Linked DNA regions of Homo sapiens: all the other regions are reported to be linked to region 2. The links are microRNA targets in miRTarBase. Many come from high-throughput screens and were not tested one by one. Region 2 holds a microRNA gene; each other region holds the end of a gene's coding sequence.
Evidence for each region. Region 2 holds the annotated microRNA hsa-miR-4755-3p (AGCCAGGCUCUGAAGGGAAAGU, at 2,479-2,500, shown strand). A microRNA usually pairs through its seed, bases 2 to 8, with sites in the 3' UTR of a target mRNA and lowers its output. Matches are read on the target gene's strand: a 7mer-m8 pairs with bases 2 to 8, a 7mer-A1 pairs with bases 2 to 7 and ends in A, and an 8mer does both.

Region 1: the mRNA of IPO9 is a reported target of hsa-miR-4755-3p. Seed matches in the 3' UTR shown: 7mer-m8 at 1,930-1,936, 7mer-m8 at 4,468-4,474 and 7mer-m8 at 6,859-6,865.
Region 3: the mRNA of SCN1B is a reported target of hsa-miR-4755-3p. Seed matches in the 3' UTR shown: 7mer-m8 at 5,655-5,661.
Region 4: the mRNA of BLOC1S3 is a reported target of hsa-miR-4755-3p. Seed matches in the 3' UTR shown: 7mer-m8 at 5,239-5,245.

What each region holds. Positions count from the first base shown.
Region 1 is chr1:201,875,377-201,882,704 of GRCh38, forward strand. It overlaps IPO9 (importin 9), which reads left to right. Exons shown (of 24, transcript NM_018085.5): 24 at 568-7,328. The coding sequence ends at 678. Among named protein-coding and RNA genes, the nearest start is that of SHISA4, 9.9 kb to the right of the region's middle. RefSeq lists an enhancer at 6,931-7,328.
Region 2 is chr20:34,046,684-34,054,011 of GRCh38, forward strand. It overlaps MIR4755 (microRNA 4755), which reads left to right and starts at 2,436; the gene lies at 2,436-2,507. All of the region lies in intron 2 of RALY (RALY heterogeneous nuclear ribonucleoprotein), which reads left to right.
Region 3 is chr19:35,038,513-35,045,840 of GRCh38, reverse strand. SCN1B (sodium voltage-gated channel beta subunit 1) reads right to left here. Exons shown (of 6, transcript NM_001037.5): 4 at 6,583-6,724; 5 at 6,135-6,206; 6 at 5,392-6,044. The coding sequence ends at 6,140. HPN (hepsin) reads right to left here and starts at 4,120. Exons shown (of 13, transcript NM_001384133.1): 1 at 3,969-4,120; 2 at 3,319-3,388. The coding sequence starts at 3,334. RefSeq lists an enhancer at 4,649-5,488.
Region 4 is chr19:45,178,830-45,186,128 of GRCh38, reverse strand. BLOC1S3 (biogenesis of lysosomal organelles complex 1 subunit 3) reads right to left here. Exons shown (of 2, transcript NM_212550.5): 1 at 7,298-7,299; 2 at 4,329-6,841. The coding sequence starts at 6,832. The coding sequence ends at 6,224. Among named protein-coding and RNA genes, the nearest start is that of BLOC1S3, 3.7 kb to the right of the region's middle. RefSeq lists enhancers at 5,131-5,632, 6,058-6,558, 7,099-7,299 and a silencer at 6,439-6,748.

The sequences.
Region 1 (7,328 bases), not on the chromosome of region 2:
CCCAGGAGTTCAAGACCAGTCTGAGCAATGCAGGGACACCCTGTCTCTACAAATAATTTAAAAATTATCTGGGCATAGTGGCACACCCCCGTGGTCCCAGCTACTCGGGAGGCTGAGGTGGGAGGATCGCTTGAGGCCAAGAGGTCAAGGCTGCAGTGAGCTGTGATCATACCACTGCACTCGAGCCTGGGCGACAAAGCAAGACCCTGTGTTCAAAAAAAAAAAAAAATCCATTTATAATTTAACATGGGAGCCTCATGGGAAAGAGTTCCTGTCTTGTTGAGTGGTCCAGGGTTTTGGGTGGGCTGGAACTTTGCACTTGATGTGTTGTAATTCATCTTCTAGAGGCTATGTTGTGAAGGTCCTTGGGGTGATACAGCCTTGGAAAAATGTTGTTTCCCTGTGGATTACCTAAACTAGATCCAAGAACATGAAAGACCATCCCTCAGGGAGCTGGCATTTGTCTAAAAACCAGCATTCCCTGTGCCATTTGATTGTGGTTCTTGCTCCACTGCAAATGGGTGACTTGCAATGTCTCACTAATGCCACTCTTGCTCTTTCCTCCAGGCATATCTCACAGATTTCCTCTGCCAGTTTGCTCAGCAGCCCTGCTACATAATGTTTTCAGGCCACCTTAATGACAATGAGAGGCGAGTTCTACAGACCATCGGCATCTAAAAAGGGGAGCCTTTCTACATTTGCTCCTTCTGGGCCAGCCGCAAACCATTTTGCAGCCCTCACTGGCCTTGAGATGCACTTTCTTCTCAACCTAAAGTGGCATCTTGACCCTTGGCCCTTGGCCTCGGCAGTGACACTGATGACAATTCAGACCAGGCTCACCGGTGCCGTCACTTAGGAATGCTGGAACAAAGGACATTTCTCAAAGTTCCCCTGAAGACATGCCATCTCTAGAACCTTTTTTCTCCCCGACTCTACCCCCACCTCTGTTCCTAGAGCCCTCTGCTGGCGAGTCCAGAAACATTATTGCCCAGAAGGATTATGTGTTTATGGATTATTTTGCCCCGCCTCAGGAGCGCAGGAAGTCACTACCATTTATATTCTAAAACAGACCTATCTATGTTCATAGGACTTCTGATGTGTTCAGATAGGAATCCTCATGAGAGATCATTATGCTTTGTGCCCTGGACCACTGCTGCTCTGGGTTCTCAGGAGGAACAGGCAAGAGCAGCTTCATTCTAAGCCTTTCCAGTGACCTCAGCCTTGCTTCTCTTCTACAACACTAAGGCTCCTCTGTCAGAGGAGGTCGTCTTGTTTTTGCTTCATTGCATGACATAACCCTTCCCCTCAAGCTGTTCCTATATATACATGCACACACAAAATAAGCCAGACAGATGGCAATTTGATCTTCCTTTTTTAGAAAAAAAAAAAAAAATGGGGAAAAGGGATTTTTTTTAAATCCACCTGACCCAACTATATTTAATATGCCTCTCCCACACATTACCACAGAGTCTGATATTCAAAGGTTATCCCCTTTCCCTCAGGAAGCCTCTAAAGTGCTTAAGTTGTAGCCCTCAAATTTGCAACATGTATTTTTCTAGGACAGTAAAGTAATCTTTACAAATGAATTTAGTTGCATGGTATAAGGTGTCTCAGCACCTGTTTGCCTTCTATTCCCTTTAGAAGGTAAGTAAAAGTAATGGGGGAAAGGATTAGGTGGAGCCTGTCTAAACATTCTAGTGTGTCTTGGCAAACATAGCCTGAAATGATTCTTAAAGAACTGGCATTGTTTAATCAAATATTTTTAAGGGAGATTCCTTAATTGGGAAGTTTAGTCTGTTTGGGGTTCAAAGAGTAAATGAGGATTAGAAAATCATGGAGAGAGGCTGGGCGCGGTGGCTAACGCCTGTAATCCTAGCACTTTGGGAGGCTGAGATGGGCGGATCACTTGAGATCAGGAGTTTGAGGCTAGCCTGGCCAACACAGTGAAACCTGCATTTCTACTAAAAATACAAAAATTAGCTGGGCATGGTGGTGCATGCCTGTAATCCCAGTTAACTTGAGATGCTGAGGCAGGAGAATCGCTTGAACTTGGGAAGCAGAGGTTGCAGTGAACCGATATCACACCGTTGCATTCCAAGGCAAGACTCAATCACACACACACACACACACACACACAAATCATGGGGAGAAAGATGAAACCTGTGTTCCCCTTTTTTTGGTAGTGCCCACATCTGGTGCCCCATTTTTAATAACCACAGGATATTTCTTTAGATTGATATTCTCACAAAGAAGAAATAGAATATAGGCTGGGCGTGGTGTGTCACACCTGTAATCCCAGCACTTACGGAGGCCGAAGCCAGCGGATCACCAGAGGTCAGGAGTTCGAGACCAGCCTGACCAACATGATGAAACCCTGTCTCTACTAAAAATACAAAAATTAGCCAGGCATGGTGGCATGCACTTGTAATCCCAGCTACTCGGGAGGCTGAGACAGGAGAATCGCTTGAACCTGGGAGGCAGAGGTTGCAGTAAGCCAAGATCGCACCATTGCACTACAGCCTGGGCAACAAGAGGAGCGAAACTCTGTCTCAAAAAAAAAAAAGAGAAAGAATATAAAGTGAATCTGAATCTCCACTCAAGGGGATGGCCCCAAGGATATTGTAGCTGGTAATTTCTTCATGCCACTAGGTGTCCCCAGTGTTCAACCTCCATGACTGAGATTGGAAGAAGTAGAGTTAAAAGTTTTTACTACCTTTGAGAAGCCTGCGGGCATGTTCACAGTCGTCCCATGCCAGCCAGGTTCTGAGGCTAACTGCTTGTGCCCCTGCTGCTTCACATGGCATTGTGGGAGTTGCTGATACTGGGGAAATGATGGCAGATCTGACCAAGTGGTGCTGAGAAAACCACCCTCGGCCTTGCAGACTCCATAGTTTATCTCAAGGCAGTGCCAGTCGGATTTGGTGCTAAAGGCATAAGGCCAAGTCAGCCTCTGATATTGGCACAAAAGAATGGTCTCATGCCAGTAGCATTGAACTGCTGAGCTTGGGAAGGCTTAAGGCTCCCACACACAGACTGAGAATGATGGGGGTCCCTCTGCGTCTGCTAATTAGACAAACATTCTATATCTAGTGCCAAAAGTGGTCCTAAATCCTTTGGCAAGGGTCCTTTCTGCTCTCATGCTGATTTGGGGGAGGACTGGGCATCCTGCCTCAGGAGAACTTGAGTCCTGAGGAAAGGGCCCTAGTAACACTTAAGGGCTACCCCTGGCTAACAGATACTCGGCTGTGGGTGAGAGCAGAAGGTCTTGGACCCCTCGATGTGCAGGTACTTAATTGTGTTTCCAGTGCATTTTCATATACATTATCCCATTTAACCTTTATAACAGGTTCACAGAGTGGATATTCCCATTCTGTTGATGAGAAAAAGAGTGGAGAGACTGTGTCCAGTGTCAGCAGGAAGAAAAAAGATCTGTTGGAGGCCAGTACATGTTGACAGAAACTCTAGACCATATTTTGTCTCCTGTCTTTGGCCAAAGAGAACTAGCTTCAGTCTGAAAAGGGCAGGGCTAAGTGGTTACAAGGAACTAAAAAGTTCAAGGTAAGACAAATGAGGTAAAAATAAAAAAGAGCACTTAGCTGCTCTGAGACATTTTAGTCTCCTGACTGGTAAACAGCAGCTGGGGCACCAAGGGGCTCCCAGGAGTTTGTCGAGCTTTTATTGGAGTGAACTGAAAGGAAAATGGAAGGAATGCTATAAGACTGAAAAGAAGTTAAAGCCCTAGGAAGGAAGCTGATAACACAAGTTACAGACGTATATGTGACATTGATTTGGGAGAATGAACCTACAACAAATGACCCAAAAGCACCTAAATAAGAGTGACGAGAGTTTAACAGACATTCATTATGGACTTCAGAGAAAATGATGCTAAACTGGTCTTAGAATCTTCTTTAATTTTGTTAACTAGGTAAATAATCTGGACATTTTAGTCAAAGCATTAGACAGACAGAGAAGTTGGTAACTGACCACTAACTAACAAACTATAAATTCACCCATTGTGGGTTGACCTGGTAAGTTCCCCCAGGGCTGTGTCCTTGGCCCCTCCTTTGATATTAGTGACAGATGACTTTTTTTATGCCTTACCCATTCCACAAAAGAATTTGAAGCCATTTACACAAGAGATAGTACTAGTAAATTAGGAGTGCTGATCAAATTTTTAGATAATAAGAAACCCTTAGGAAGGATGACAATTTAGAATCCAAATTTAGGATCCAAACAAATACCATTACAAACTATAAAAATGAGCAGAATCTAAATGTAACATTTCAATAAATGCAGATTGATAATAACATCTGTGCAGAGTTGAGGACTATAGAGTACTGTGCTGTCACTAACAGTATTGTGTGCTACTAAGAGTTTAATGGCTGGGTGTGGTGGCTCACACCTGTAATCCCAACACTTTGGGAGGCCTAGGTGGGTAAATCAGCTGAGATCAGGAGTTCGAGACCAGCCTGGCCAATGTGGTGAAACCCCGCCTCTACTAAAAATAAAAAAATTAGCTGGGCATGGTGGCACGTGCCTGTAATCCCAGCTACTCGGGAGGCTGAGGCGGGAGAATCACTTGAACCTGGGAGACAGAGGTTGCAGTGAGTCGAGATCACACCATTGCACTCCAGCCTGGGCAACAGAGCAAGATTCTGTCTCAAAAAATAAAGTTTATTATGCCAGGAGGGCCAGGTGTGGTGCCACACCCATGTAATCCCAGCACTTTAGGAGGCTGAGGAGGGCAGATCACTTAAGCCCAAGAGTTTGAGACCAGTCTGGGCAATGTGGCAATACCTTGTCTCTTAAAATTTAAAATAAAAAAAAAGTTTATTATGCCAGGAACTGTTAATGTGTCCAAAAAAACTCCAGTGTGGTTCTAGGATGAGATAATAAAAACAGGTTGTCTAGGGTAGTGTGGAAGGTCCTTTCAGTCTTCCTGTGCCTATCAGTGATCCTCATTGCCATGTTCCCTTCTGGTGCTCAACCGGAGGCTCCCTGACAGATGAGTCCTCTGCCAGAGGAAGGCTAAGATGTAGAGGACAAATCGTGTCAAGGAAAAGAAGCTTGAAGGAGCTAAGAATGCTTAGCTTAGAGAAGACAAGAGGAAACAGGACATGGCTTTGGGAAGTTCAAGGATGGTCCAGTGAAATACATACTATACTTTTGCACCCCAGCTAAGCTGACCCATGATCAGTAAGTAGGAAATAAAAGGCCAATTTCTGGCTACTCTTGCCCCCAACCCCATTTCAGTGAACTATGAACCTCTATTAGATATGCAAGGCCGGTGCTAAATGCTGGAGGGCTTTGGCCCTTTCCCTCAAGGAGCTAGTCTAGTAGGGGGTCAGAAATACAGATGGGCCTGAACATAATGATGGTTTGACTTCCAGTTTTTCAACTTTAGGATTGTGCAAAAGCTATACACATTCGGTAGAAACAGTACTTCAAGTATCCATACAATCAGTACAGTATTCAATAAATTACATGAGACATTCAACACTTTATTATAAAATAGGCTTTGTGTTAGATGAGTTTGCCCAACTGTAAGCTAATGTAAGTGATCTGAGTAGGTTTAAGGTAGCCTAGGTGTATTAAATGCATTTTTCACTTAACGGTATTTTCAACTTTTGTTGGGTTTATTGGGATGTAGCCCCATTATAAGCTGAAAAGCATCTGTAGTATAATAAATGTGGGGAGTGCTGTGAGAGAAATAAGTGTACTGGGTTTAGTTCCCACTGCCCAAAAAAGGAACTGGCTAATGGTAACCTGGGGGAGGAAGTCGGGTAAGTTGCATGGAGAAGGCAACCCTTGAACACTTGCAAGGAGCTAACAATACCTGCTTCTGGAGTATTTAAACGCCAGTGGGTATGCTAAATACTTTTACCTCAGACCACCTACTAACCTTACAAAGTAGTCCACTTTGCTCACCCAGTTTTACAGATTGATGAAACTGAAGCAGACAGATATTGTTAACCTATCAAAGGTCACCCTGCAAGTGTGTGATTATAGTCCAAGCAGCTTGTACTTGTTGCCTATTTGTTTTGCCTTTCCTGTGCATTTGCCAGGCAGATGAGAGTGGGGTAAGACATTGCAGAGAAAAAGTAAGAAAAGGCCGTCATGAAACAATTTCATTTTCAGACCTTATAAGCACGTTACAAGTACTGATATTTATGCTTAAGTTCACGGGAGTCCTGGCCAGAAATAAAGCTGGAAGGACAAGTGGGGGGCAGATTGTGAAGGATCCTTCAAGACCTGCTTCCTCTAGAGAATGGGAGACTACCCAAGATAACTAAACAGGGAAGTGATCAGGTTTTGTGTCTTAGAAAAGTGTTGCAGTGTTGATGCAAATGTGACTAGAAGGGTGACTTGGAACCTGGATTGAAGGGGTGGGAGATGGGAGAAAGGAATGCAGTCTGGCAGCAGCTACAGCAGTCCAGGTGGGAAAACCCAGAGCCTGAACTAAGGTTGTAACTAGAGGGGATAGGGTGGAAGAGCTGGATTAGAGATGTTGACAAGATAAAGTCAGTAGGACTTAAAGACTGACAAGTAAGGATTTTCCAAAAGTGAGAGCTGTGGAATGAATTGTCTTAAAATGTTGCAGTGAGTTCCTCCTCATCAATCCAAGTGCTCGATCAGAGGCTAGACCTTTAGTTAGCAGTCACGGGAAAATTCCCCATTCTCACGGGGATTTAGACTAGGTCTTAACCATACTTTACCAAGATTCCAGTAGCAAAGCACCCAAAAGTAATCGCAATAAAATTCCAATTTTTGTAGGCCGGGCATAGTGGCTCACACCTGTAATCCCAGCACTTTGGGAGGCCGAGGCAGGCGGACCACGACATCAAGAGTTCAAGAGCAGCCTGGCCAGCATGGTGAAACCCCGTCTCTACTAAAAATACAAAAAAATTAGCTGGGCATGGTGGCGCATGCCTATAATCCTAGCTACTCAGGCAGCTGAAGCAGGAGAATTGCTTGAACCCGGGAGGCAGAGGTTGCAGTGAGCCAAGATCATGCCACTACACTCCAGCCTGGGCGACAGAGCGACACTCTGCCTCAAAAAAAAAAAAAAACAAAAAAAAAAACAAGTTTTGTGAATTTAAGTTTCCCTAATGGATGGTACAGGTCAACATTTGCCATCTAATGACACTTACATTCCAGTTTTTTCCTTTTTTGAGTAACTGGGAAAAGGGTGGCATTACTGCTGGCTTCCTAAAATTGAAAAGTATACTAGGGTTTTTAAACCTGTGTAGAATACATGATATGGTAGCAAATGTGCTGTAGGAAGAAAAGCAATGAGGAACTACTGGCCTGACTAGGAGGCCTAGAAG
Region 2 (7,328 bases):
TTTATATATTTGTTATTCTTGTTGTGTGTAGATAGAGGCCAGGTTAGGATTCAGTATATACCTGTGTTCCAGTTGTTGCTCTGTGATTTTCTAGCTGTGTAAACTTGGACAAGTCACTGGACCTCCACTCTTTTTTTTTTTTTTTTTTTTTTTGAGATGGAGTTTCGCTCTTGTTGCCCAGGCTGGAGTGCAATGGTGTGACCTCGGCTCACTGCAGCCTCCACCTCTTGGGTTGAAGCAATTCTCCTGCCTCAGCCTCCTGAGTAGCTGGGATTATAGGCATGTGCCACCATGCCTGACTAATTTTGTATTTTTAGTAGAGATGGGGTTTCTCCATGTTGGTCAGGCTGGTTTCGAACTACTGACCTCAGGTGATCCTCCCACCTCGGCCTCCCAAAGTGGGGGGATTACAGGTGTGAGCCACCATGCCTGGCCTTGACCTCTATTCTTAATGTGTTTTTCACACTAGAGCCCTAAAATTCAACACTAGTTACATTTGGAAACCTGACTTGCTAATCTGCTGACCTTGGAAAATGTGTCTTTGTTGAATACAGAGCAGTAGTACCTGGGCTGGCCCTGTGTGACTTAGAGCGGACAGTATGGGAGGTGGAGAACTGGGTGCATGGGAGCCATTAGATCAAGAATTGGAAATTCCTCACAAATAAAAGGTTTCTGGGGTAGGAGCAGGGGGCAGTGTTGATGGTGACTCTGCTTGGATTATCTTCTAGGGATGGAGGATTGCCAGCTCCATTGAATGGAAGGACTGGTGATGCGCAGCCACTCTTGCATGTGCCCGGGCAAAAGACAGTGTGTTGGTGGCAAATGCCTAATGTGTCTATGGCTGACCATGGGCCATCTCTGCCATTCAAGACATCAGCTCCTGGCAGAGTTGTATTGGTTTGATAGAGCTTTAGTCTTCGGAGTCGCACAGACCTGAGTTCAAATCCTTCTCTGCCATTTACTGTAATAATTGTGTTCCTTAGGCTGATCCTTTAGCTCTCAGATCCTCTTTTTCCTTTTCTCTAAAATGATGTGGTTGATATCTGCTTTTGAGGTTGTGAGGATTTAAAATAACAGGTAAATAGGTGCCACACAGTACCAGATACTTAGTTGGGTGAGTAGCCTGGTGATCTGTGGCTGTTAGCTCTTTGAAGGCCAGTATCCCTAGGAGATAGCAGCAACGTCAGCACTGCTCTGATTCCCTGACCAACCCCCAACCCCACCTTTGCCCTCAGAAATACCCTGGACCCTTGTTTCCTTCCTCAAGTTCAGACCCCAGAAATGTTGGGCAAGAAGGAGCCTCCAGGCCAGGCTTTATTGTGCCAGATGTTATATCTGAGTAAGCAGGATTGTTACACAGCAGAGATACAGGAGCAGAGCAGGTAGCTCAGGCAGCTGCTGATGAACAAAAGGCTTCTTCTCTCTGTTCCCAATAAATTGGTCCTTGGGGATCCTAGCTTTGAAATTCTAATTGACACAGGAAGGAAAAGATTCATTAGGCTCTGGACTCGTTAAAATGCTCTGCTGCTCACCTACGATTTATTCTTGGCACTTCATCAAGAGGAATTAAGTAAACCAATGGGCTGGGAGGCTCCTGACAGCAGAGTCGTGTGTCTCTCGTGCTCCTGGGGGGATGAGAGTGTTGGGTCTCCTATGCTATGGAGCATATAGCTGGCTTTGGAATCTCCTCATCCCTAGGACTTCACATGAGTCTAAGTCTCATATGCTTTTAACAATGGAGGGACCTTCTGAGATCATACTGTGTAACTCATTTATAGATGGTCCAAAGAAGAACTGGGACTTGCTCAAGATCACGAAACGCATTAGTAGTGGAGTTAGAATTAGAATCAGTCAGGCTGCATGACTTCCAGGTCAAGAATATTTTCTCTGCGGCCGGGCGTGGTGGCTCACGCCTGTAATCCCAGCACTTTGGGAGGCTGAGGCAGGTGGATCACGAGGTCAGGAGATCAAGACCATCCTGGCTAACACGGTGAAACTCCATCTCCACTAAAAATACAAAAAATTAGCCGGGCGTGGTGGCGGGCGCCTGTAGTCCCAGCTACTCGGGAAGCTGAGGCAGGAGAATGGCGTGAACCCTGGAGGCAGAGCTTGCAGTGAGCCGAGATCGCACCACTGCACTCTAGCCTGGGAGACAGCGAGACTCCGTCTCAAAAAAAAAAAAAAAAAATTTTCTCTGCATCACCTTTGGATTTCTACACCCAGTGTTTCATTCATTCAGCCTTCAACAGATACTTTTAACACATTCTGTGTGCCAGGACTCTGTGATAAACAAAACAGCCATGGAGGAAAGTAAATACCTGACCCAGTATTAGGAGAGATTAGAAAGGCCTCCAAGTCTGAGAGATGGATAGGAATTAGCTCAGCAAGGAGAGATGAGGAAGGTTATGGCTGAGGAACTGGCATCTATGAAAGCCAGATTCAGCTTTCCCTTCAGAGCCTGGCTTTGGCATCTATGAAAGCCAGGCTCTGAAGGGAAAGTTGAATCTTGCTAGAGTGGAGAATTGAGGAAGAGATGAGATGTTAAGGCAAGCCGAGTCTATGAGGTTTGGGCCACTGTATGGTTGTAAAGAACCCTGGATCTGGGATTAGGAGTCCTGAGTTCTAGATATGTTTCTGCTACCAATATGTTAGTCATCATTCTAGTAACACTTCACATCTTTTAGGTGTGCCATGATGGGCACTGGGGTACAAAAATGTGTAAGATGTATGTAGTCCCCTCCCTCAGAGATCTGTCAGTTTAATGAGGCAAGCAGGCTAATTAAGAACCCCTGTAGTAAAGGAACAGTTACCTCTGCTGTAAGAAGTCAGAATTGAGCTGTGTGTTACTTTAAGCACTTTCTCTGGGCTTTGATGATCTCACCTGTCAAATGGTAAATAACCACTGTCCTATGTAGCTGGTAAACTGATGAGAAGACAGACAACTTTGTAATGATTGGCGTTTGTTTGGCATTTTGTGGATTTCAAAACACTTTTGACATCATTAATTCATTGAACCTTAACTGCAATCTTATGACTTAGGAAATTTCCCCACAATGTACAGATGAGGAAACTGAGAGAGGTTGAGGCTTGTTCATAGTTTCACAGCTTTTGATTAACAAAAGTTAGGATTATAAATCCAAATCCCGTGCTCTTATTTTGAAAAGTATAAAGATGGCAACCTTTCTTTCTATCCCCTACTTAGTGGCAAATTATCCCCTTCCCCTTTTCACAGTCACCAGAAATGCAGAGAATGTCTGCTGTGTTTGAAAAGCAGATCTAAGCTGACTGGGGAGAAAGAAAGGAGCTTATTTCAGGTCTTCTTCAGGCTGGACTCTAAACTTTTAAGATCATGTGCGCCCGTGCTCCCATCAGCTCCTGCTGTTCCATCTCATGCCATTTACAGAGTGCCATTTACTGAGCCACTACTTCATTGGCTACTCATAGCAACTTGTGGGGTAGACAAAGTGCACTTTACAGATGGGCAAACTGAGGTCCAGAGTCCCTGAATTGTACATGTCAGAACCAGGATTGAATCTAGAAGTCTTGGGCTCCTGACACCAAACAGGTGCTCTTAACTTGCAGAATGTAGGTTCCTTTGATTCAGTTCGGTTCAAACAATTCTTGAATATAACCCATGTGCCAGAGACTTTGCTATGCAAGAGAGCCTCTAGTTAGGCTCAAACCGTCTTGGTCTAGTGCCTTACTTAAGAACAGGGACTTGTATTATTTACTTCTCTGTCCCCAGGCAGGACCTTGATCCAAAAATGCTTTGCTGTTGTTTTTGGCCTTAATCTGCCAGAAACTAGAGGGAGCAGATGGCCACAGCAATGTGGGTTATGAGGATGTGATATCAGGCAGGGTTGAAGGATGAATTGAGAGCCCTGCACCCAACTACTTCTGTGTCTGTGCCTAGGCCCTTGTCAGGGTAGTCTCTATCTGAGAGTGTAGCTGGTCAGCCTGGTCCCATTTCTCATTTCCAGTCACCTCCCCCTCTTGCCATCCCATATAATGGGGTTAGTCTCCTGGACAGATCTCATACAGAGGCTGCTGGGATCTGCTGTCCAAATGACCCTTTGGACCTATTTCCCAGCCATGTTCCAAGATGATGGTGAGGAGTCTAGCCCCACAGCCAGTATGCTATCTCTATTCAGATAACTCCCAGCTCACAGGCCTCCCACCAGGCTCTCACCCACTCTGATGTTTTCACTCCTGACTCCTAAGAAGCAGATTGGCAATTTAGTGTGAGTCTGTCAGACAGCCTAGAGAGTAATCAATACTGAGAGAAATGGACATATTTCCTGTTTATTCAAAATCCTGATGAAAATTTTAAGGAGCACTATTTGGGAAGGGATGACTGGGAACCTTGCAAGAACAAACAGCTTAAAATTCATGAACAGAAATAGCAACGTTTATTCATGATGTTTCAAATGCCCCTAATATTCACATCTTTATATATTACAGACCCCTTTCATACGTGTTACTGCTTTTGAACCTTAGAGCAACTCTGTGAGGGAAGCAGTGTAAGGATTACTATTCCCACTTGACAGTTGAGGAAACTAAGGCCCAGGAAGCTTTAAAGAGAGTTAGGGACCATCTGATAGTCATGGTGGCAGAGCCCAAAACAGAACCAAGATTTGGAAAATGAGTACTCCTGGGTTTGAAATCTGGTGCTCGCCACTTTCTAGTTGTGTGACCTTTGGCAAGTTACTTGGCCTCTCTGAGCTCAGTTTCCTTCTCTGTAATACGAGGATAACAATGTCTACTCCTTATGGTTGTGTATGGATTTAATGATATAATTAATGGAAAATGCTAGCACAGTACAGAACATGTGTTAGGAGCTTAGTAACTGCAGGTATCCTATCTCATAGGATAGCGTTTTCAGTATATTGCACTCTGAGTCTTTGAAATTTGATACTTTTTTTTTGTTTTTGAGACAGAGTCTCGCTCTGTTGCCCAGGCTGGAGTGCAGTGGCGTGATCTCCGCTCACTGCAAGCTCCGCCCCCTGGGTTCATGCCATTCTCCTGCCTCAGCCTCCCCAGTAGCTGGGGCTACAGGCGCCTGCCACCACACCTGGCTAATTTTTTTTGTTGTTGTTGTTGTTTAGTAGAGACGGGTTTTCACCGTGTTTGCCAGGATGGTCTCCATCTCCTGACCTCGTGATCCAGGTGCCTTGGCCTCCCAAAGTGCTGGGATTACAGGCGTGAGCCACTGCGCCCAGCCTGATACTTTCACTACAGTAAAATGGACTACATATAATAAATTCTCATTAACCAGAGTATCATTTAAATGCCTCACTAGGTTAAGAGAACTGGATAAGAAGGGAAGCAGGGTGCTCCAGGCACTGGCTAAGTACTCCTGATGCAAATCACAGTAGGTTAGAGCTGACAGGGACCCTAGAGATCTGTCCCAGTGTGTCTTCCTCAAATTGTGTCTTCCTCAGAAGAGATGTTAATAATTTGGGAAACATCAGATTGAATAATGCTAATAAGTAAATTTCTTTACCGCTGCCTTTGCAGACCCTTATTGTGTGTGTCTCTTGGGAACGAGTTGAGAGTGCAATATGCCAAATTTCCTCTTCTTATTTAACCTTGGAGCCCCTTTTTTGAGGAACTCTCATTAACATCTTGAGGAACCCTGGTTTTCCGTGGAAGATTTCATGTAACTGACTCAGTCCAGTTCTTTAATTTTTAAGATGAGGGAAGCTTAAGGTCTCTAACCAAGGTCTACAGCCCATGGCAGAACCAAGTCTAAATCTCAGGGTGCCTAACTTTTTCCTAGGCCACACCATAATTTGTACTCCACTATTGTTCCTTTTCTAGCCAGCAAATCCTAAAATTACAGAGGATCCTGCAAACCACTAATCAGAGAGCATTGTTAGAGCATCAAGCTTTCTGTTTTGATGTGTTTATCCCAGTAGGCAGGAAAATGAGGAAACAACAGGCTTAATGGCCATCAGATGTTTCCAAACAGTTGAAGGACCAGGGGTCAAGTAATTATCTCAGTAACTGGAAAGGTGCCCTTACCGTGCAAAGTCGAACTCTGTTCTTCCTGCTGTAAGAAATTTGAGTTATATCTGGGGGACTCATCCAGTAGGCCCACAGTCCCCACAGTCCAGCTCCTACTAAGAACTAAGCTCTGACACCAGTAATATAAAAAAGATCCTGAGAGGGGTTTGAAGAGAATGTGTAAGTTTCTGCTCCTCTGTCACCGTCTCCATCACAAAATTGAGGGGGTAGGAATGTTCTGCTGGATTTCTATCCAGACAGTGGCAGAGGAAGTTGGCTTTGGCATTTAGTGGGGCTATCCTTGCATTTTACTAAGCCCTCTAGTTAAGATCAAATCAAGTTTAAAAAGAAACTTTTTTTTTTTTTCACTCTGTTGGCCAGGCTGATCTCGAACTCCTGACCTCAGGTGATCCGCCTGCCTCGGCCTCCCAAAGTGCTGGGATTACAGGTGTGAGCCACCACATCCAGCCCAAAAATATCACCTTTAAATTTGCAAGTTTATATGGTAGATTGTTCAAAGCACATCTGATCACAACACAATCCCGTGACATAGAGGTTCTTTTCCATGTATCATATGAGGACGTTAAGGTTCAGAAAAGAGATGGTGACTTGTCCAGGGTTTGACGGCAAATTAGTGATAGACCCTTTTCACAAGTGCCTAGTGCAAGGCCAACATTTAGTAGATGTTCAATAATTTTTTTTTTTTTTTTTTTTTTTTTTTTTTTTGAGACAAGGCCTCGCTGTGTCACCCAGGCTATAGTGCAATGGCACAGTCATGGCTCACTGCAGGTCCAACCTTCTGGGCTCAAGCAGTCCTCCCACCTCAGCCTCCCAAGTAACTGGGACTATAAACATGTACCACCATGCCCGGCTAATTTTTAATTGTTTTTAGAGACAGGCTCCCACTATATTGCCCAGACTGGTCTTGAACTCCTGAGCTCAAGCAGTCCTCCTGCTTTGGCCTCCCAAAGTATTAGGATTACAGGCGTGAGCCACCATGCCTAGCCAAGAAATATTTATTAATTGAAAATTTTAGTACATTCTCAGGGATTAACTTATGGTCTCCTAACTCTTTGCCCAGTATTCTTTCCATTAAGATAGCTTGGTGGGGCCAGTGGTTGGGCTTCATCTCAGGGTGACCAGATAATAAAGAGAGGGAGGGCTGAATCTCTGTCACTATTGATATTGCTGACAAGGATGGCATTTTCTGGCCTTTGCTGCTGTCCTTATACATACTACCCACTACAGAAAGCCCAGATTCAGTAGTCTCTGGGCTGCAGACTCAAGCTTTTGTTGCCTTTGCTCCCTGTAGTATACTGAAC
Region 3 (7,328 bases), not on the chromosome of region 2:
GGTTCCCCCAGTATGAGAGGCATCCTCCCTGCATGTCTCTACTGGGACAGGCAGCATCCTCATCTGGCCCACGGTGTGGGACGCATCCTCATCCTCCCTGCGTGTCTCTACTGGGACAGGCAGCATCCTCATCTGGCCCAGGGTGTGGGACGCATCCTCATCCTCCCTGCGTGTCTCTACTGGGACAGGCGGCACGTCAACATCAATTCTTTGATCCCAGCAGCAGGGCTATTTCCCTTGGTAAGCCAGACCTCCCCCACCCCTACATCTCCCTGAGACTCTCTGCCCCTGCTTCTCCAGGCCCCTCTGGATGCCTTGGGTCTTCTCATAGGTCAGTTCTTCCGCCTCCACCATTTGGCTGCAAAGACCCCCACGCGTAACACCTTTGGCTCTCTGGCTCTGAAAATCCACTCAACTGGTGGCTCCGTGTCTCGGGCCTCATCTTACATGACTGCAGCTTCCTGTATAAATGCTCTCCTCTTTGGACTTCTGGGACACCAGGCGCACCTGATTTTCCTTCCCGCCTCTGAGGCTGCTGTCTTCACCCACCCTCTACCTACTCCGTAAAATCCAGAGTTTGTAGGGCTGGCCGCAGCCTCCCCCTGCTCCTCCTTGCCCCTAAGTCTGTCTCACCCACCTCTGTGGACTCAGTTTCCCCTCTGTCCCCAGCCCTAGACCCTCTTCCAGGTCCCAGGTCAGGGCTCCTGCAGTCCTTTAAATACCTTTTAAATACCTTTCCCTGGGACCTCCTAGTCCCTTTGCCCCTACCAGGTCCCAGAATGTCTCCCCAATGTCTCCCCAAGTATATTCTTCCTCCCGGTCCTGTCTCAGAGGCCCTCACTCCTAGGACCATCCCCATCTGCATAACATTCCCCTCCCCCGACAGCCTGCCAATCCTCCTGAGTGACTCTCCTTCCCCCGTTTCCTTCTTTCTCTCCATCTGCACCTTGCTCCGGCCCCATCCAACCGCTGGGCTCAGTCTCCCTTCTAGCGCACCCTCCACACGGAGGCTTGGGGAACCTACTGAGACACCAAATCCAACCTGTCCCCTCTTTACCTATAGAACCCTCTGTGACTCCCTAGTACCCCCCAGACAGCTTAAGTCCCTCAGCCTGGCATTTCCAGCCCCACTAGGGTATAAGCATGGCTTTCAGAGATTTGGGAGTATGTTTCCCCCAATTCTCAGACAACCATGTGGGTCACTATCAGGTACCAGAGAGAGCTTCCAAAAAGCAACCCAAACAGTAGAACTTGTAAAATACAAGTTAGACAAGAGAAGCAGGGACTAACCACTGGCGCCACCTTGTGGAGAGACCTGGTACTGCAAGGAATTGGCCAGCTCTTCCCCAAAACAGTCCCACCCCTGCCTGGTCCAGCTTGCACACCTCTTCTCCCACCCAGCTCAACTTCCAGCTTCACCTCCAGAAATACCACAATTGGCTACGTGCACACCAGTGCTGTGTCACCTCCCAGCTTCCCAGAGAAGAGCAAGAGCCTTGCTCTTCCCTCTGCCTGGCATCCTTGGAATTGCAACTCCAGTATCACCTCCTCCAATTCCAAGTTTCCAGGCAGCACCAAGAAGCCAGCAGCAATAACAGTGACACCAACAACAGCAGCCGCTGCAGCCACAACGGCTCTCTGAATCACACACGGACGCACCGCCCTACCCTAACCCCGTCCAGTCCTGCACAGCATCCTTACTTAAATCCTTGCAGCTGTTCACGAGGAAGGCGCCATTGCCATCACCCCCAGTTTACAGATGAGAAAAGGAGGCCCAAAGTCCGGCAGCCACCAAACCCGGGTCACCCGGCAAGTAAGTGCAGAATCGGAACCCTTCAGCATCTGTGTCCAGGTTCGACCTCCACACCCCTAGCCCTGACAGCAGGACTCCCCTCCAAGACCAGCCCGGAGCTGCCAGGGAGGCACCAGAGCCCACTTTGTGTCTGTTTCTCTTTGTACCCAGGCCATCTCTGTCCATTCGGGCATTTTCTGCTTTTCTTCCCTGGCTCATTCACCCATGGGCCCAAGCCCTGGGGCTGTCCTTCCGGCAGCTCCAGGAAAGAGATTGTCCCCAAGGAGCTGGATTCTGTCATCCACCTGCTCGGCTAGGGTGCAATGCCTTCTCCTGAGTAACTGGGAGCCTGGGTTCCCTCTGGACTGCAGCTGATTGGTTTGGGGTCTGAATTGCCAGCTGTGCCGAGACCCGAGGAGGCCAGAGATCTGAACTAATCATTTCAGCCAACACGCTCAGTGCTTCCTGCCCATCCTGGCATTTCAGGCCTCGCCCCACGCTGTTGGACATGCACTGTCACCCTCTCCATTTCACAGATGAGAGAATGGAGGCCCAGGGAGAACACGCCGTCTGCCCAGGGCCACACAGCTAGAAAGTGCTACTGCCCAGGACTGAGCCCGGCTATCCTGGTTGCGGAAGAAGAGAGGGAGTCAGCCCCAGCTAGGGGAAGGCAGAAAGAACAGGACGCCCCTCCATGCGCCCCTCCAGCTGGGTCCCATGTGTGAGAGGTAGAAAGGAAGCCAGGCTAGCTGGGGGCTGCCCAGAGACTCCCAAGGGCCAGCAACTCCATGACGCAGTCTCTCTCTCTCATCCTTATGGTGGTTTCTCTGCCGTCTCTCCCCTCTCCATCCATCCAGGCCCAGTCCAAAGTCCTCCCTCTGCTCTTTTGCCCACAGAGCCAGGAGGTGGAGGAATGTCTGGGATCGGTGGGGGTCCTGGGTCTCTGGGACTCCGAGTTTGCCAACCTCTGTCATGACAGCTCTGCTTGATGGCATGCGTCTTATATGCAGAGCCCCAGACCAGTGCCTGGTGTGTGTCATGCACTCAGCAACCTCACAGAGGGAGGACTGGTATCCATGCTTGACCCAGAGGGAGACCAAAGCCCTAAGAATAATGTCACTTGCACCAGATCACACAGCAAAAAAGATGGCAAGAGCAAATTCAAATGCAAGCCTGTGTGTTTCACTCCAAATCTGTGTCCTTAACCATGACAGCTACAGCTTCCCCGCCTCAGCCCCAGCAGAGGACAAGTCCAGAGTTAGCTGAGAAATCACTGGGGGATGAGGGGAAACTGAGGCAGCACGCCAGGAAGGTCACATAGGGTAGAAGGGAGGCTGGTGGTGGCACAGCTGCACAGAAAATGTGGTTAATAGTTAATCAGGTGGAGGAGGACTAACAGGGGTGGGGATGCATCTGGGAGGGGTGCCCAGAGAGAGGGGGCTCCGAAGAGTAGAGGGTAGAGAAAAGAGCACAGAGGGCGGGGCGCCAGGCAGAGCCAAAGCTGGGGCTCAGGGAAGGGGACTCACCCTCCTTCTGCGCCATGTCACTGCCTCTTGTTAATGATTCCCTGGCTGACCTCCTGGGCCAGGGTGGGACCTGTGAGGAGATGGACGGGGAGGCAGGGCCTGGGGGAGCCCAGCCCAGCCCAGTCCTGGCGCCCCCAGTCCCAGGCGTCCATCCAGGCAGGCTGTAGGGACTGGGCCTTGGCCAGAGCACGCCGTGATCACGGACGCAGATTGGGCTGGGTTCAAGGATGGGGTCAGTGTCTGACCAGCAGCGGGGGGACGCCTGGATTTGCAGGGATGGGGACCCCCATGCCTGAGCCTGGTGGAGCAGGGGACTGAGGATCCCGGTTTGAGGGAGGAGACAGCTGAGGACCTGAAATCATAAGTCTTGGGAAAGGAGGAATTTGGGGGCCAGGACTCCCTAGTATGAGGGAGGAGGGGCCTGAGGGCTGGAACTCCTGGGTCTGGGGAGGAAAGGACTGGGGTCCAACGGCTGAGTCTGAAGGAAGAGCAGGACAGAACACCTAGGTGCTTGGGGGGACGTCATAGTGCCCCCTCTTCAGGTCCCCAGGAACCCCTCTATTAGGAGGTGGGCATTAGGCTGGGTGGGGGGATGAGGGAACCCCTGTCCTCAGGGCTGGAACTGTGAGTCTGGGGGCCCTTGTCCTTACCCTGGGGTCCAGCAGGTGGGGGCGGAGCCTCGAGGTAGTGCCGGGGTCGGGTCAGTCTCCAGGCCTGGGCAGGAGCATGGTGGCCCCGCAGCAGCGGGCGGCCTGGAGGCAGAGGCGGTGGCGTGGGGCCTGCTAGGCCAGGCTGCCTCACCTGAGGAGGAGGGGGCTGGGCGAGGGGCGGGTGAAGGGGCGGGGAGGGGCCGGACCATTCGATTGGCAGCACTGGAGGCCACCTGGCTGATGGGGCCGGGCTTGTGGGGGCTGGACCAGGCGGGCCCAGCTACGGGGCTTGCCTTGGACCTCCAGGGGGACCCAGGTGTGCCTGTCTGCGGGGATGTGGGAACAGGGACAGGCCTGGCCGGAGGCTGGGGGTTTAGGGAGAAAGTGCAGGCTGAAGGGTGGGGGTCTGACCAGAAGAGATCAGATGGAGGGCCCCAGCTGCCCTAAGCCCACTCCACCCTCACCCAGCGAACCCTTCCCCCCGCCCTTTCTGCGTCCTCCAGCCCCAGGTCCTGGCTGTGCCCGCCACTTGCTGCACCTCTGCCTAATTCCCTGCCCAATTCCTGGGCCCCAACCCCAGCCCCAGCCTCTCCCGCCTGCCCTGCTCATCCTGCCCCGGCCCCTCCCCCGCTGGCTTCCTACAAGTCACGGGGCTGGTTTGCTTTGGCAGCCTCCGCCCGGCCGCGGTGACCTCTGGAGCCAGAAAGTCCTAGCACTAGATAGGGGGGATGGGGGGCTTGGCCGGGAAAACACAGCGCTAAGGGCAGAGGCCCAGGCCAAGTGGCCGGAAGCGTCCGCAGGCAGATAACACACTGTCCCGCCAGCAGCCAGGCGCGGCCCACGTCAGACCCAGGGCCAGGTAAACACCAGACGTGCAGGGTCACCGCCAGACACCTGCCCGTGCTCAACCACACGCCGGACACAGTCGGCCTCGGCTGCTTGCCCCAGATAGGCCACCCGCACAACCGGCCCCACCCGCTTACCCACACGTGCCCGCTGTGCCCAGCCAAACCCACCTCCACCGCACCCATTTCCTCCACTCAGCCCAGGGCCCCTCATTGGGACACGCTGGTTTAGCCTGGCTTCCTCTGCCTTTCCATCCATACCCGTCTCTCCTTCCCTCTCCTTCTCCCCAGCGCCCACCTCTCCAGAGACTCACACTGCTGGGCACACCACACACCCCATGCCACCCCTGCACCCCAGCATCAGCCTCGATTCTCTTCCCTCCACGGCACCCCCTCCCTTCCTGGCTCCGTTCCACTCTCCCTCACCCCTGAGCCCATGGCTCCCCCAACCCCGACACAGATCAGGCACTAAGTGGCTTCACCTGTGGGCCCTCAGGTAGGGTCCCTGGAAAGCGGGCTCGAAGATTCGGGGACGGGAATGGGGGGAAGGTGACGGGGCTCACAATCGAAACTATGCATCAAGTCCAAGAGTCTTTATTTCATGAACAAAACTACTTCTGTAAAGAGACGAGGCTGAATGGGCCCCTTTCTAGGTGGCCACAGTTCAAGGCTGGTGAGAGAGGGCGAGGTTGGGCCGGGGCAGGAGTGCATTACAGGGAGGGGGGACCCCAGGTCCAGCCGGAGGAAGCGGGAGGGGAAATGATGCCGGGGAGGGGGAGTCGGAGTGGGTCCCAGAACCCCCTGCCCCAAACTGCTCCAGCCCATCATCGCGACCCCTGCCGCCAGGCAGGGAGGAGGCGGGGAGGGGCTGGCCCCAGAAGTGCGTGTCTGAAGCGGCCAATGTGTGCAAATCAGCAAGGAGGAGGGGTGCGGGGCCGCTGCCCCCACCTCACCGCCCCCCTCCCCAAACAGGCAGCAGAAGCAGGGTGGGGGCAGCGGCAGTATTGCTTTACCCATCATGCATGGCGGTGCGCGGCCGGCGGGGCAGGAGCTGGAGGAGGCGAAAGTGGGGGTGCGAGCCAAGCCCCCTGCCCCCTCCCACCCCAGTGGCTCCGTCGGCAGGACTCTGAGGCTTTCTGGGGCCCAGGAGTGGCCACCCCCACGCTGGGGGCAGGCGGTGCCTGGAGAGTCCCCATTACGGCTGGCTCTTCCTTGAGGCGGGGCCCAGGGCCTGAAGGGGAGCAAGAGAGGGGGAATTAGGGACCTGGGGGACTTCGGCCCCTCCCAATCCCCTTCCCCTCTGCCAGCCCATCCGCCTTACCAGGGCTATTCGGCCACCTGGACGCCCGTGCAGTTCTCTTTGCTTTCAGAGGTGATGGCCAGGTATTCCGAGCTGTGGGGGAAAGGCCAGGTATACAGTGACCCCATCATCAGACCGACCCAACCCCCGGGGGATGGGGGAAGGTAGCGGTCTCCACCCCAGGTACACAGGGCTCCTTAGTTAGAGAGAGAAGGAGTCTATGGGTGGACTCCTCAGGGTCTTTGAGGAATCTGGCTGGGAGCCTGGGCTCCTGAGTTGGAGGGAGGAAGGGGCTGGGTCTGACGACCCCTATCCTGTGTCTGACAGGGAGCACTCCCCTCTGGGTAGTACTGAGAGATGGCGCCCTGGGCCGCTCCGCTGCCTCCTCCCTGCCCGGGCTCCGGAGTTCCTCTCTGGCAAGTGTGACGGTGCCCTGGGTGCCCTCCCACCTCCCAGCCACCCTACTCACGCATTCTCCTGTGCAGCAGTCTCCGTGGCGGCAGCGATCTTCTTGTAGCAGTAAATCATCTCTGCCACGAGCCATATGGTCAACACCACAATGAGCACATACATCATGATCTCAGACACGATGGATGCCATGTCTCTGTTGGCTGCAGGGGCCAGGCAGGGTTAAGGGGGTAGCCCAGGCTGCATGACAGCCTGAGTGTGCTGTGAGCTTGCTGTGTGAGCTTGGATGAGTGGCTCAACCTCCCTGGGCCTGGTGTATGCACTGTGATTATTAATACCCAGCCTTGGGTAGGCCTGGTGGGGGTCACCCTCAACCTGCCTCCCTGTGTAACTCGAGGCCACATCTGTGTCATTCTGGAGGCCCTCAGCACGGTGCCTAAAAGCCGTAGCTCTGCAACCAGAAGGCTCAGGTTCAAAGGCTGGCTCTGCCACTGGCCAGCTGTGTGACCTTGCGCAAGTGACTCAATGTCTCTAGGCCTCTGTTTCTTCAATTGTAAAATGAATACCTCCTTCATCAGAGTGCTGTGAGAATTAAATATGCTTTAAAATCCTTAGAATAGTGCTTGATCTATAAATGGCACTCAGTGAAGGTTCACTTGTATTAGTATTATTATTGTTGTTATAACTGGGGCTATAAAGCCTAATGGTTAACAGCTGGGGCTCTAGGGCCAGACTGCCAGGGTTCAAATCCCGGCTCTGCCTCTTACTAGCTGTGTGACCTCAGGCAAAGGACTGCACCTCTCTGAG
Region 4 (7,299 bases), not on the chromosome of region 2:
TCTTTTTTTTTATTTTGAGACAGAGTCTTGCTGTGTTGCCCAGGCTGGAGTGCAGTGGCGCAATCTTGGCTCACTGCAATGTTCGCCTCCCAGGTTTAAGTGATTCTCCCGCCTCAGCCTCCTGAGTAGCTGGAATTACAGGTGCACACCACCACGCCCAGAATGATTTTTGTATTGTCAGTAGAGACGGGGGTTTCACCATGTTGGCCAGGCTGGTTTCGAACTTCTGACCTCAGGTGATCCATCTGCCTTGGCCTCCAAAGGCCTGGGATTACAGGCATGAGCCACCGCACCTGACCCATCTAGGTATCTCTTGCTAAAGCACAAACTCGTCCCTGCCTCTCTCCTGCTTGGAACTTGCCTTGGCTCCCCAGGGCCCTTGGGACAAAGCCCTGCTCCTCATTCTGGCCCTGTGTGGCCTGGCTCTTGACTGAGTCTTCAGCTCTCCCTCCTGCCAAAGGCCCCTCTATAGCAGTCCATGCACAACAGACAATTCATCTCGCCCAAACAAGCACCCCCAGGATTTTCCTGCCTCTGGTTCTTTGCACATGCTATTCTTTCTGCCTTGAATGCCTTTCCCCTTGAAATGTGGTTAGCAAATATTTGTGGAGTGGGTGTTATTAGCATTTTGGTGCATGTCTGACCCTCTCATCCTGCACATCTGAGGGTGATGTGTTATGTGGGACCGAGTGCCCATCACCTTTGGAGGGAGGCTGTGCCCGAACGTCTCAACAGCTCCATGCATCTGAGAGGCTGATGCCGTGTGATGGTGTGAAGGCCATTCATTCATTCAACAAACAATTTGCCCAGTATCTACTCTGTGGTTTCCCTGGGTTAGCTGGCCCTGGCCAAGACAGCCTCAGCCCCGTCCTCATGGGGCCAACAGTCCAGTGGGGGTGACAGACCAGTTCCCAGGCAGTGATGACCAGAGTGGTCATCACTACCCAGTGACTTGCAACTAGCCACAAATAGTCTCTCTTACCCCAGTGTTGCCCTTCCCCTTGGGGGCTATCTCCTCCTCCCTTCTTACCTACTGCAGGACAATGGTCTGGCTTTTCTCCCACCTTTCCCCTGTATCACGACTTCTCCCTCTTCTGAAATACTCCCAGCAGCATACAAACATGCCATGACCCCTCCCATCTTCCCCATCTAGGTACTTCCCCAGTCGGTCCCTCCTTCCCTCCCTCCCTTCCTTCCTTTTTTTTTTTTTTTTTTTTTTTTTTTTGTTTGAGACAGAGTCTCGCTCTTTCACCCAGGCCAGACTGCAGTGGCGCTATCTTGGCTCACCGCACGCTCCACCTCCCGGGTTCACGCCATTCTCCTGCCTCAGCCTCCCGAGTAGCTTGGACCACAAGTGCCCGCCACCGTGCCCAGCTAATTTTTTGTATTTTTAGTACAGATGGGGTTTCACCATGTTAGCCAGGATGGTCTTGATCTCCTGACCTCGTGATCCACCAACCTCGGCCTCCCAAAGTGCTGGGATTACAGGCGTGAGCCACCACGCCCGGCCCCTTTTTTATTTTGAGACAAGGTCTCACTCTGTTGCCCAGGCTCGAGTGCAATGGCACAATCATGGCTCACTGCAGCCTCGACCTCCTGGGCTCAAGTGATTCTTCCATCTCAGCCTCACGAGTAGCTGGGACCACAGGCGCACACCACCACGCTCAGCTAGTTTTTGTATTTTTTGTAGAGATGGGGTCTCGCTATATTGCCCAGGCTGGTCTCAAACTCCTGGGCTCAATCAGTGCTTTCACCTTGGCTTCCCAAATTGCTGGGATTACAGGTGTAAGCCACCATGCACTGCCACTTCCCCATTTCTTACCATCCCACCCCTTCACTCAACATTGCAAAGAGGATGGTCTCTGGCTCTCCTTCCACACCCTCTTGTACCCTCTCCAATCAGATTCCCATCCCTGCCATGCCAAGGTGGGAAGATCCATTGAGGCCAGGAGTTCAAGACCAGCCTGTGCAAAATAGTGAGACCCCACCGAAAGAAAGGAAGGAAGGAAGGAGGGAGGGAAAAAGAAAGAAAGGGGCTGAAAGCCAGGCCTGGCTAGTGAGCTGGAGTTTAAGGAGTGAGGGAAGCTCTGTGCTCCAGGGCTGGAAGTCCACCATGAGACCACTAAGCTGCCACTCTCCCAGGCAGCTCAGCTCCTCAGGGACTCTCGCTAAACTCATTGAAAAGGGAAGTCCTGACCAGGTGTGGTGGCTCATGCCTGTAATCCCAGCACTTTGGGAGGCAGAGGCAGGCAGATCACAAGGTCAGGAGTTTGAGACCAGCCTGGCCAATATGGTGAAACCTCATCTCTACTAAAAAGAAAAAAAAATAGAAAAACTAGCTGGGCATGGTGGCACGTGCCTATAATCCCAGCTACTCAGGAGGCTGAAGCAGGAGAATTGCTTAAACCTGGGAGGTGGAGGTTGCAGTGAGCTGAGATCTCGCCACTGCACTCCAGCCTGAACGACAGAGTGAGACTCCATATCAAAAAAAAAAAAAAAAAAAAAGAAAAGAAAAGAAAAAGAAAAGGGAAGTTCTGGGAGATCATCCTCTTTGAATTGTGATCCACTCGCCCTAGGTGTGGAAGGGGAGCTGGAGGGAGTGCTCAGGAGGGAGGAGATGCTGGTTGATCCGCACCTACTTTTTTTTTTTTTTGAGACAGAGTCTTGCTCTGTCCCCTGGGCTGGAGTGCAGTGGCGCAATCTTGGCTCACTGCAACTGCTGCCTCCCGGGTTCAAGCGATTCTCCTGCCTCAGCCTCCTGAGTAGCTGGGATTACAGGCATGTGCCACCATGCCTAATTTTTATATTTTCAGTAGAGACAGGGTTTCACCACGTTGGCCAGGCTGGTCTCGAACTCCTGACTTCAGGTGATCTGCCTGCCTCGACCTCCCAAAGTGCTGGAATTACAGGCGTGAGCCACTGCGCACAGCCAATAATACAATTTTTTTAAAGCTCACCTTTATCTGGCCCCTTCTGGTACTGCACTCAGCACCCCCCTGCCCCACAACCACCCCACACTTCTCCATTCTAGGTGGAGAGCAGAAATCATCTTCTTCTGTTAAACAGGTTATGGTCCCTTTCCCTTCTGCCTCAGGGCCCTCGCATATGCTGTTCTCCCTGTCTGCAACTCTTCACCCTACTCCCATTTCACCTACTTCCACCTTCCGGGCTCAGCTCCAGCACCACTCATCACTTCCTCTCTCCCGCCCAGATTAGGTCAGGTGGATCCCGCTCCACCTTCATAAAGCTCCTTTACTTCTTCATGGCTCTAATCATGGTGCCAAGAAAATTGTATCTAAATTATAAATTATGGCTGGGTGCAGTGGCTCATGCCTGTAATCCTAGCCCTTTGGGAGGTCAAGACAGGAGAATCCCTTGAGCTCAGAAGTTCAAGACCAACTTGGGCAACATTGTGAGAGCTCGTCTCTATTTTATTTTTTAAAATTAATTATTTTTTATTTATTTTTGAGATGGAGTCTCACTCTCACCCAGGATGGAGTGCAGTGGCATGATCTCAGCTCACTGTAACCTCCACCTCCTGGGCTCAAGCGATTCTCCTGCCTCAGCCTCCCGAGTAGCTGGGATTACAGGCATGTGCCACCACGCCTGGCTAATGTATTTTTAGTGGAGATAGAGTTTCACCATGTTGGCCAGGCTGGTCTAGAACTCCTGACCTCAGGTGATCTGCCTACCTCGATCTCCCAAAGTGCTGGGATTAAAGACATGCGTAACTGCGCCTGGCCTATTTATTTTTGAGACAGAGTCCTGCTCTGTCGCTCGGGCTGGAGTGCAGTGGCACGATCTTGGGTCACTTCAACCTCTGCCTCCAGGGTTCAAGCGATTCTCATGCCCCAGCTCCCTGAGTAGCTGGAATTACTAGCACGTGCCTCGGCCTCCCAAAGTGCTAGGATTACAGGCGTGATACATCGCCCAAAATTTTTGTATTTTTAATAACTACAGGGTTTCACCATGTTGGCCAGGCTATCATCTCTATTTTTAAAAATTAAACTATAAATTATGATTACTAGAACTATCTATGAGAACATCTTATTACTGTTTCTCCCACTGGACTGCGACCTCTGTGAGGGCAGGGACTGGGTGCTATACCCCTAGCCGCAGCACAGGTCAGGTACCCAAAACGTGTGTGTTGAATTAATAAAATACGAGTAAATACAGAACCAGGGCAAAAATCTAGGGCCCCTGATTTCCCAACTACAGCTTCACCTTCCATAAGCCAGGCATGGAGGTCTCGGGACCCCCATTCTCAGAGAAATCAACCAACTCACCCTTAGCTTAGATAGGGAAACAAAAGGAACTAACCATAAGGGTAAATGCTTAAGAGTTTTAATCAGTCCGCCATAAAAAGCTCCTCCCCATTCTCCATCTTGGGGGCTCAGATCTTGGCTTCGGGTTGAGATGAGGGACAGGGATATCAGGCTGGGAGAGGAGAGTAAATATGAATGCGGCTGAGGGACCAGAGCTGGGATCGGAAGAAAACACAGGTGAAAAGGAGCAGAAAGAGACTGCTAACCCCAGTCCCTGAGCCAAGTCAGAAATCCAAGTCCTTTTATAGCATCCAGGAGCCAAATGTAGTGAAATCCACACATCATATCGTTCTTATCTGCAAAGTGCTGTCATCTGGCGCTGAAAGCACCAGGACTGGGCTGAATTGGGCCCGAAGTGCCTGAAGGGTGTCACTTTAGGTCTGGAGAGTCAAGAGGAGACGCCACCTTGGCCTACAGAGTTGAGAGCGAGCATCATCTTGGCCTGGAGGGGTGTGCAGGAAATGCCACCTTGGTCCAGGGAGTTGGGAGGAAGATCCCCTGCCTTGGGTTAAGAGGGGCCATCATTTTGGGCCTGCAGAAGGAAGGAAACCATGGGGAGTCCCCAGACCCCAGGATCAGGGAGGTGTAAGTAGGATGGAGACAGTAAAAGAAAGCAAAACCTATCCCACGACACTGCTGGACTTGGGAAACAGAAATCAGGCTGAGAGGGCGGGGCTAAGCTCAAAGGGGAGGAGGCAGGAGGCAGATGGGAGAACAAAAAGTAGAACCAGCACACGGAACCAGGGCCAAGCTTGGGCAGCAGAACAAGGACCCAGCTGGCTAGGCGCAGTGGCCCACGCCTGTAATCCCAGCATTTTAGGAGGTGAGGCGGGTGGATCACCTGAGGCCAGGAGTTCGAGACCAGCCTGGCCAACAAGGTGAAACCTCATCTCTACTAAAAATATAAAAAGTAGCCAGGCGTGGTGGTGCATGCCTGTAATCCTAGCTACTCGGGAGGCTGAGGCAGGAGAATCGCTTGAACTCGGGAGGTGGAGGTGGCAGTGAGCCGAGATCACGCCACTGTACTCCAGCCTGGGAGACACAGTGAGACCCTGTCTCTAAAAACAAAACAAGGACCCAGCCTAGGGTGAAGGCAGTTCTGGAAGTGGAGCTAGGATGGGAGGCGTAGCCAACTGAGTGAAGGAAGACGGCAGGGAAGCTGTGCCACATCCTGGGTTCTTGTGGGAAGAACGGGAACAAGCTCCCCACCATAAGCAGAAACCAAACTCAGAAAGGCAGAGCAGAGCCCAGTGTGTGGTGGCTCACACCTGTAACCCCAGCACTTTGGGACGCCACAGTGGGAGGATTGCTTGAGCCCGGGAGTTTGAGACAAGCCTGGGCAACATAGTGAGACCTTCTCCCCTCTTCAAACCGACAGAAAAAAATTAACCGGGCAGCTGGACGTGGTGGTGCAGGTCTGCAGTCCCAGCTACTCTTGAAGGCTGAGCTGGGAGGATCACTTGAGCCCAGGAGGTCGAGGTTGCAGTGAGCAGTAATCCCGCCACTGCACTCTAGCCTGGGTGACAGATAAACACCCTGTCTCCAAAAAAAAAAAAAAAAAAAAAAAATTGGTGAGCCCCCAGGGTGGAAACAGATTAAGGAGCAACTATGTAACAAAGGCTGGAGCCAAGCCCCAGGGGAAGGCTCAGAACCAGGCGGCAGGGTCAGGATCGGGAGAGGAACCAGATCTAAGGATAGTGGGGCCCTGGTCTCCGCAGTAGGGGTTGAACTATATCCAATATAAAGCATTATCCAAGGGGACCGGATTAGCCCCCATGGGTGACACCAAGATGGGAGCGGGGGTGGGGGGTGATAAGAGACACAGGAGACAGAGTCAGGTCCCAGAGGCAGCAAGGCCTACCCCCAAATTGCAGTCAGGTTGGGAAGTAGAATCATGGCTAGGCCCGCGGCCCCGGGTCTTTCTCAGGCTCGGTCCCTGGCACGCCGCGGATGTCCGGCAGCAGGCGGCAGCCAGCCACGATGTCCAGACGCTCGGCCAGCGCACAAAGGTCCCCGCGCGCCAGGCGCACGCTGTGGGCCGCCGCCAGCCCCGCCGCCTGGGCTGCCGCCAGCCTACTAGCCAGGGCGGCCACGTCGCGGCCTGCACGGCGGTAGACACCGCTCACGGCGGCCGCCACGTCGTGGTCCAGCCGCGCCTGGCTCTCCGCCAGCCGAAGTTGCAGGAGCGAGCGCGCGGGGGCGGGCGCCGGGGCCTCCTCCGTGCCCCAGGCCTCCTCCGCCGATTCCCGCTGCACCACGAGTGGAGGCAGGTCCCTCGGCGCGGCCGTCGGTTCCGGCTCCGGCTCCGGCTCCGAGTCGGTCTCCGCGGCTTCCCCAGCCACCCGCAGCCCCGTGGGGCGGCCGCGCGTCGGGCCCGAAGGACCCAGGTACAGCTCCTCCTCCTCCGACGAGGACGCAGAGCGCTCGGAATCCGTCTCGGTCGCCTCCCCCGGCACCACCGTCTCCGGCCTCCGCAGGGGCCTCCGCCGACGACCCTGGGACGCCATGGCACCGAACTAGGGGAGAAGAGCGAAGGGACTGCACGTGAGACCGGCGCCGCGGTGGGTAAAAGGCGCAGGTCCTGGATTCCCAGCCCCTTCGCTGATTCTCTTAACGACTTGGTGTCAGCTGCTCCCCGTCTGGGCCTCAGTTTCCTCTTCTGTAAACTGGGTGATGATGGGGGTTACTGGACCCCAGGCTCTTCAGCGTACAGATGGGGAAACTGAAGACCAGCTCGAACAAGGATCTGGGGCCCGAGTTCCCGGAGTCCCAAGCCGAGGTCTTTACGAATTTGCCTCCTAGTAGAGGCCACACCCTCCACCTGGTCCACCATGCCAATCTCAGACCCGGAAGCACACGGGCCCGTGAGCTGCTCGGGACCAGCGCCAGAGTCGCAGAAAGGATGACAGTCCGACTGGACTCTGCTGGGGGCACTCATGGGATGGGAGAAGCGCTAACGCCAAAGACCGTACCC